Regions from separate parts of the Homo sapiens genome. Here region 2 is linked to region 1. The links come from fine-mapping of genetic effects on gene expression. A gene starts in region 1. The other region holds a variant in brackets. All regions are shown on one strand. Distances are from middle to middle. Region 1 holds the start of EEFSEC (eukaryotic elongation factor, selenocysteine-tRNA specific). Region 2 overlaps EEFSEC (eukaryotic elongation factor, selenocysteine-tRNA specific).

The links. PIP is the estimated chance that this variant, and not a neighbour inherited with it, causes the effect.
Region 2: its variant is the best candidate, but not a certain one, in a credible set for the expression of EEFSEC in whole blood (TOPMed, PIP 0.84).

What each region holds. Positions count from the first base shown.
Region 1 is chr3:128,150,757-128,155,152 of GRCh38, forward strand. It overlaps EEFSEC (eukaryotic elongation factor, selenocysteine-tRNA specific), which reads left to right and starts at 2,725. Exons shown (of 7, transcript NM_021937.5): 1 at 2,725-3,067. The coding sequence starts at 2,752. It also overlaps a transcript of RUVBL1 not described here. RefSeq lists an enhancer at 2,356-2,585 and a silencer at 2,716-3,235.
Region 2 is chr3:128,343,239-128,347,634 of GRCh38, forward strand. All of the region lies in intron 5 of EEFSEC (eukaryotic elongation factor, selenocysteine-tRNA specific), which reads left to right. Among named protein-coding and RNA genes, the nearest start is that of DNAJB8-AS1, 120 kb to the right of the region's middle. RefSeq lists a silencer at 190-603. The variant C/A (reference allele first, on the strand shown) is at 2,087.

The DNA.
Region 1 (4,396 bases):
ATATATTCTATATATTATATATTCTATATATATTCTATATATTATATATTCTATATATTATATATTCTATATATTATATATTCTATATATATTCTATATATTATATATTATATATATATATTCTATATATATATTCTATATATATAATATAATATTCTATATTATATATATAATATATTCTATATATTATATATATTATATATTCTATATATTATATATTATATATTCTATATATATTATATATATTATATTATATATTATATATATAATATATATTCTATATTCTATATATTCTATATATATTATATGTTCTCTATATATTCTCTATATATCTATATATTCTATATATATTCTGTATATATTCTATATATATTCTATATATATTCTATATATTCTATATATATTCTATATATACTCTATATACATTCTATATATACTCTATATATTCTATATATACACTGTATATATTCTATATATATATACTCTATATATCTATATATAAAATCTATATATATTCTATATATAGATATATAAACTATATCAAGTGATCTGCCTGCCTCAGCCTCCCAAAGTGCTGGGATTACAGGCATGAACCACCGTGCCCAGCCAAACCTTTTTTCTTTTCATTACCATTTCAGGATTCTGTTTAAAACAGAGGTAAGAAATGAGGTTTATTTGAAGCCAGGCCCTGTACAAAGTCTTTGTTAGTTGAAATATTTCTCAGAGGTACATAAAGCCTCTAAAGCTCTTATTACCTATTTACTAACCCTCCCTTTTAAATACGTTTACTGCTTTTACTACTAGATTTTTTTTAATGGGAGGCGTATTTTTACAGTTTCCTATTTGCAAGGTGGGAAAACGGAAACAAAGATTCTGTTCTCTTCTTGTAAGGACCCTAATCCCATCACAAGGGCCCGCTCTCATGATCTCATCTAACCTCCCAAACGTCCCATCTCCAAATACTATCACACTGGGGGTCAGGGTGTCCACATATGAATTTGAGAGGGACACAATTCAGTCTATGACATGGACTCTGTTCCTAGTGGAGAGTGGTGGAACGAAGGAGGCAGTTACTGCAAGCATGAATACATCCGCACATGGTCTGGCTCATCACAGAGGGCAAAGGTAAGATCCTGTGAACTTTGTGCTCCACCGCCACAGTGTTACAAAAACACTCTCTTCTCCAGAAAAATGGAAGGAGGAGGCAATGTTGGGCTAGCATTCCTGCCTGGTATCACTGGCTGAGACTGAGCAGTGGCTTCCCTCTTTGCACAGGAAAAGGGCTCTCCAGGTCTCCCAGGTCCCCACCACTCCCTGTCATCTTAGACTCTTTTAACTTCTCTTCTTTGATTTACCCACCACCTGGCCAGAGCAGACACTTAGGTTTGTTACCTCTGGTTGGTGACTATGGCTGACAACCTTTTTTGTGGTTCTAGACACTTCAGAATCTAGTGAGAGTTGTCGACCCTCTGTCTAGCAAGAGCACATCACAACACATTGTGCGTTCAATTTAGAGGTTTGTGGCCTCTCCTAAGCCCAGGCTACAGACTCTCAGGGTGAGAATTTCTGAGTCAGAGATAATGTTGTCCTCTTCCATCTTCAAACCATCTTTTCCCATGGTTGGCTCCTTCTCAACACTGGAGTTTCAACTCAAACAGCAACTCCTAGATGTCTTCCCTGACCCACAGTTAGGTAGCTGTCCATCCTCCCTCTCCTGCTCCTTTTTATCTCAGCTTTTATTTTCCCTAGGAGACTTCTCGCTCTCTGAAATGGTCTGGTTCAGGCTGTATTGTTTGACTTAGCCCTCACCCCCTGAATGTAATATTAGCGGGCACTGTAGCCCAGCGGAACCCACCAGGCACTTGGTAAGATCTTGCTGAAATGTATGAATGATTGGAAGTGTGTCCGGAGTTGGTTTCTTCCAGTGGGTTCCTAGTCTCGCTGACTTCAAGAATGGAGCCGCGGACCTTCGCAGTGAGTGTTAAAGCTCTTAAAGATGGCACAGTCCCAAAGAGTGAGCAGCAGCAAGATTTATTGTGAAGAGCAAAAAGCTTCTGCAATGCGAAAGGGCACCTGAGAGGGTTGCTGCTGCTGGCGGGGGTGGCCAGCTTTTATTCCCTTATTTGCCCCCTCCCCCACGTCCCCCCGCCCTCCCCCGCCCCCCGCCGTCCCCCCGCCCTCCCCCCCGCCCCCGTCTTCCCGCCCCCCCCGCCCCCGTCTTCCCCCCGCCCACCCCGCCCCCCCCGCCCCCCTTCGCCCCCCCATGTTCCGTTTTTGTCCTATCAGAGCGCCCTTTTTTCAATCCTCCCTGTGATTGGCTTCTTTTAGGATCCTGCTGATTGGTGCATGTTACAGAGCACTGATTGGTGCGTTTTACAGAGCGCTGATTGGTGCATTTTACAATCCTCTTGATAGCTATAGAAAAGTTCTCCAAGTCTCCACTCACCCAGAAAGTCCAAATGGCTTCACTTCTCAGAAGGATCCCTCCATCTCGGGCTCCTAGAGGCTTCAGGCAGGAGGAGCCACGTGAGAGAGAAACCCTGCCTACGGTGACCTCCAGTTCCTAGACCACCCACTCGGAGCACGGCGCTCGGCTGTGCCCGTGAGCCTCAGGAGGGCGGAAGCTTCCGGGCCGGAACGGGTGTGCACAGCGCGCCGGTTACGGGGGGGCAACTTAACGGGCCGGACCGCGGCGACTACCGAGGGAGGTGAGGGGCGGGCCGGGCGGGTGTCCGAGGCGGCGGCGGCGGCATGGCAGGGCGGCGGGTGAACGTGAACGTGGGCGTGCTGGGCCACATCGACAGCGGCAAGACGGCGCTGGCGCGGGCGCTAAGCACCACAGCCTCCACCGCCGCCTTTGACAAGCAGCCGCAGAGCCGCGAGCGCGGCATCACGCTCGATCTGGGCTTCTCGTGCTTCTCGGTGCCGCTGCCCGCGCGCCTGCGGTCGTCTTTGCCCGAGTTCCAGGCAGCGCCCGAGGCCGAGCCCGAGCCCGGCGAGCCACTGCTTCAGGTCACGCTGGTCGACTGCCCCGGGCACGCCTCCCTCATCCGGACCATCATCGGCGGTGAGCGCGGGCCGGGGCGGGAGCCGGGCTCAGGGACGCGGGCGGAGCGACCGGGCCCCGTGTCCGAATTCGCTCGAGCCTTTGCCGGGACGGGAAATCGCCCCACCTCATTGGTGGGGCTCCTGACGCCCCAAGAGGCGGACGTGACTTGCCTAGGGCTCCGCAGCAAGTGAGCGGAGGCTTTGAGATTCAGCTTTTCCCATCCAGCAGAACCGAGCTGCAAGGCGCCTTCCTTAAAAAAAAAAAAAAAAAAAAATCAAAAAATCCCTACCAAATGTGTTTATAATACATGGTCAAGTAAAGAAAACTCAAAATAAGAAAACTCACAAGCTACAAAAAGGGTATACATACAAAGGCTGTCTTCATTCACCTGTCATTTGGTCTGATTCCCGTTCCTAGAGCCAACCGCTGCTACCAGTTTTTGTATATCATTTCAGAAAGGCTCCACGTCAATACAAGCATATCTGTGTGTATGTATAAATCCCTCTTTCCCTCATCCTTTTAGACACGATTTCACTCAACATTGTGTCTGGAGAGTGCCCCATATCTGTACACAAAGCTACATCATTCTTTTTAAAGCTCACATAGAATTCAACTGCACCCTTGTACCAACATTTTCTTTTTCTTTTTTTTTTTTTCTTTTTGAGACAGAGTCTTGTTCTGTCGCCCAGCCTGGAGTGCAGTGGCACGATCTCGGCTCACTGCAACTTCCGCCTCCTGGGTTCAAGCGATTGTCCTGCCTCAGTCTCCTGAGTAGCTGGGATTACAGGCGCGCGCCACCACGCCCGGCTAATTTTTTTGTATTTTCAGTAGAGACGGGTTTCACCATGTTGGTCAGGCTGGTCTCAAACTCCTGACTTCATGACCCGCCCGCCCTGGCCTCCCAAAGTCCTGGGATTACAGGCGTGAGCCACCACGTCCGGCCTGTACCAACATTTTCTGAACAAATCTTTTAATGATGGACGTTTATGCTGTTTCCAGTATTTACAAACCATTTTGCAGTGAATATTCTAGAACAGAACTCTTTGGTATGTTCGCATATATGTAGGATAATAGATAATAACTGGCTGGGGCAAGGGGCATGTGTGTTTTCGGTCGTGGTGGGTACTGCCAAAATGCCCCACAAAGAGGTACCATTAATTTTTAATTATACATGTAATACATGAATACATGCTACTTGTGAAGAAATAGAACATCACAAATAAGACAAACATTCCCTTACCCACTCCTCTGTCCTAAATTCTGTACCCCTCCTATCTCTGCAAATGAAAAGACCCGTTTTTTGTTTTTTTGTTTTTTTGTTTTTTTCTGAGATGGAGTCTCGCTCTG
Region 2 (4,396 bases), 190 kb after region 1:
TCTCCTCTGGGAGAAAATCCACTGGTTTTCTCGTCTGGAATTCTCTGTCACTGCAGCCCCTTCCCCTCCCTTTCTCCTTGTCTTAGGTTCTTCCTGGGTGCTCCACCCTGGCCCTCTTCTTTTCCTGCCCCTGTACCTAGACCTGCCCTCAAGTGGGGGACTGAGGAGCAACCCCTTCCTCTCCCTTCCTCAGACCCAGAGCTTGGACCCTTAGCTCCGGGGGGGCCGCTGGGGCCTGCTCAGGGCTCCATCAGCCTTAGGCCAGCCCCAAGATGCTGATTGAAGATGAAGGTGATAAAGTGTGTGTCACTCGTTTGTCTAGCCTGATTTATTAGCAGTGTTTGGAGTATAATTATTCTATAGTAAAATATCTATGAGAGAGTAATATCCCAATTGGTGTGGCTCCTGGGTCTAATTGCTCCCACTCAGGCCTGTCAACAGCGGTGCAGCAGTCACTTCCTTTGAGAACTGGGAGGGAGGGTCTGTGAGGAGCAAGTAAACATATGGCCTCAATGACTCATGCCTCCGAAGGGCTGAGGGAGGGGCCAGGAGACATGCCTGGCCTATGTCCTTCCACCAACCTGGGGCCACCAGCATTTTCCTGCTCAGTCCAGGGAGGCTGGAAGTGGAAGCACAAGAACTGTAGGCAGTCCACAGAAGCTGAGTCCAAATCCCATATAGACAACCCTGAGCAGAGACAGGCTTCCTCCAACCAGGGACAGCCTCACAGGGTGACTGTGGATGTGTGCAGAGGTGAGATCCTATGAGCCCAGGGCTTTGGTCGAGGAAGAAGGCCTTCCTGAGGCTCCACAAGGGAGGAAAGGGCATGGGTGCCCAGGCTAGGAGCAGCTCCCCCAACTCGCAACCCCCTGAGGCTCTAGCTGAATGGGCACCTGCCTTAATGCTAGGGGCTGGCTGTAGGCTGGGGCTTCTGTGCCACATGCTCTCCTCTGGGCCCCAGGGCAGGAATGAGCCTGCCTCCTGCCTCCCTCCACTCTGTCACCACTCTACTGATTAAGCATATACTATGCGCCTTTACTAGCTACATACTTTATTTTGAAACCGTTTAATAACCCTGAGGAAGAGGTCATTATTTTTCCTATGTACATTTTTCCCCAATTAAATCAATCAAATTATGTGCAAATATTTAGGAAAAGTAATATATGCACATGGTAAAAAATTTCAAACAAGACAATAATTATTCAGTGTAAGGAAGTTTTCTTCCTACGAACCCAGGTCCCCTCCCCAAAGGCAGCCAGACTGGAAACCAGCCCAAGAAATGTGAAGTGACCTGCCCAAGGTCACAGGGTAGTAAAGCTGGAGTTTGAACTCAGGACTAGCTGGTCTCTTTTGAGTCATGAAATTTCCACTTTGTCAGACAGATTCTTGCCCAGTGTGTCAAAAGAGTCTGCGTTCTCTTGAAAAGCTCGAATCTCCTTGGTGGGAGACTTTCCTTCCTGGTAAGGTGGAACTTGGAGATCATACAGAGTAGGCTCAAGCCCTTGCTGTACCCAAAACAGCTGTACGCCTTGGGCAGCCATTTAATCTCAATTGTTCATTCCTTCGAAGGATGGTCTTGACCTCATCAGGTTGTTTTGAAAGAGCCACCATAGCTTGTGGCTTCATATGTAAGAGCCGACTCTCATCAGGTGAAGCAAGAAGGTAGTGTTCCTGTTGCAGCTCCTGAGTGATTGGCTGAGTTTGTTCCAAAGGGGCAGCCCTGTTTGCTTTGAGTAGGCCCCAGATCACCCAGAGATTTTCAGGTCATCTTGCTTGACCAGGGGCTCAGCCATCCGACAGACTGGTCCAATGTGCAAGCCTGGGCTTTATTTACTCCCAGCCTTACCACCTGCTAGTGTGAAAAGTTGAGCAGACCATGAGACTTCCATGTTAAGTGGGAATTTTCACAGTGCTGCACCAGGGTTAGATGAAGGTGAGATGGGGGATTGCACATAAGGTTCTGAGATCAGTGCTTGTCTCCTACTGCATCGTTATTGTTTTATCATTATTAATGTTTAAGCTCTTAGAGTCAAAATAATAATGCCTGGAGCGTGGGTCCACTCTTTTCCCTGGGACTCCATTATTT[C/A]TCTTTGAAGCACAGGAGCCAATCCCCCTGGTCCCTATCAGGAGCCACACAGTTTTGGTTGAAGAGGGAGGGGCTGAGAGTCTGGTAGGCTCATGGGTGTGGTTATCCAGCGCAGGGGCCAGAGAAGTGCCCTATGCTCTTCTTTCCCCACCGTGCTTGGCTGACTCTAAAAATTCCTGGGCACATCACAGTTACTAGTCAGCTTTCTGGACATGTCTATTCAAAGAAGTTTCTGGAAGATCAGAGAATCTTGAAAAGGTGAAATCCAGTCTCTTGGGCAGAATCTCCACCACCTTGGTGAGCCAGCACCCAGCCTTTGCTCTGTGATTCGGGGCAAGGCCAGCACATCTACTTTGCAAGCACAGTTAGCCTTCTGAGAACCTGGGCTTGGGTCTCTGAGCTATCTCAGTTCATCACAAAGGGAGACCCTGGCACTATACCTATGTGTTAAGTGAGCACTTTCCGCCAGGGGGGCTTAAGGCATATAGGCCTTCTGATCCCATTTCCTATAAAGGCATCCTTCATTCATATATTCGGATGTTTACTGTGCTCCTACGTTTGTGCCAGGCACTGTGCATACAACAAGATAGACAAAGTTCTTGTCTTCCTAGGGGAGGCTAGTAGTGAACAGTAAATTAGACATTTTCAGGTTATAATAAGGTCTAGAAAGAAAATAACAGCGTGATGTAAATATGTGATGCTGAGGACAGTTATTGAAACACAGAAGATGCTAATTTCCAAGCCTCTGCAGACTGTGTTTTTATTTCCTGTGCGTCTGCATCACTGGCTCACACTGGAAGCTGGTCAGGTACCCTACCAGTTGTGGCTTAACTCATTAGTATTACATAGAGCAAACTATGGCCCATGGGCCAAACCTAAACAACTGCTCTTGCTCCAAATCTAATAATCTTAAACAAGCTTATTTTCTCTGGATTCTTCTTTCAGCTGCTTCGATCAAACACAATTTAATTAACTTACCATTGGTAAATGGCTTTCCTTGCTTGGCTAACAAATGAGCCACCCGGAAACCTACTTTGGTTGCAGCCTTATTCTTATTTTTTATTGTTTTGCGTGTCTGCTATGATGAAATATACTGTTTTAAGTTTTCTCTTTTTTGACATTGTTTTTCTGTGAGATGGGAATATCGTGATGTCAGTGTATCTCATATTCTGTTAACACAACTAATAACAAACACAGTACTTTGCCATGTAATGTGATAAAATAATAATCCATACCCACTGCGCCTTAAAAGTGTGACATTTGAAGTCCACTTTTCTTGTTTTCATGTGATGGGTATGCACCAGTAATAAAATAAATAAATAAATAAAATGTGTCACTGGGTGAGGTACTGCAAGTTGTAACTATGTTACCACCATCTGTAGTTTACTGAGCACCTCATCAGGTCTCAGACTCAGCTACTCAACTCTGCCACTGTGACACAAAGGCAGCCATAGACAATATGTAAACAAATGGGCATGACTGTGTTCCCATAAAACCTTTTGTTGTGAACATTGAAATTTAAATTTTATATAGTTTTCACATGTAACAAAATAATATTCTTTTGATATTCTCCAACTCATTAGAAAATATAAAAACCCTTCTTAGGTCACAGGCCATACAGAAACGTATCAGGAAGAATTTGACCCTTTGGCTATAGTTTTCCAACCCCTAATATAAATGGTTAATAGGGCTCTTGAAATAGAATGAGCACCCTGCGAGGAAAATGCTAATAATTATCTGCAGCTGAAAGCATTAAACCCTCTCAGCAGTCCTTAGGAATTGGGCTTTTTCTTGGGTGCCCACTGTCTCTGTGCTAACACTGGGATGCATATACTACTTTATGTGCTGTGTTTTTTATTCTTGGATACATTTGATTTTTTCACATAAGTCCACGTGTACTTCTATAAGAGTGTGACTTGTAATAAAGGGTTAATGAAGAAAAAAAAAAAAGAAGAAGAGGGAGCTTGGATTGGTAGAGACATCCAGAGGTCTCACCTGAGTGGGAGAAGAAAAGAAGTGAAAGTGTTCTAAATGGCTAATCTTTCTGGGGAGAGGGTTTAGGAAAGACTACTAGAGCATATGGTGATAAGGGAAATAGTTGGTATCCTGTTTCAAAGTAAAAATATAGAAATATGTGCAAGATTTTGAGTACAGAGAAAGGGAAAGAAACTATATGAATGCAGTGAAAATGTAATAGCACTTTCACATTCTCAGAGGAGAAACTGGAATGAATTTGATTAAACCAACAAAAATAAGGAAAAAAGAACAATGTTAATAAATAATAATAATAACAGAAGGAACAACATTAAG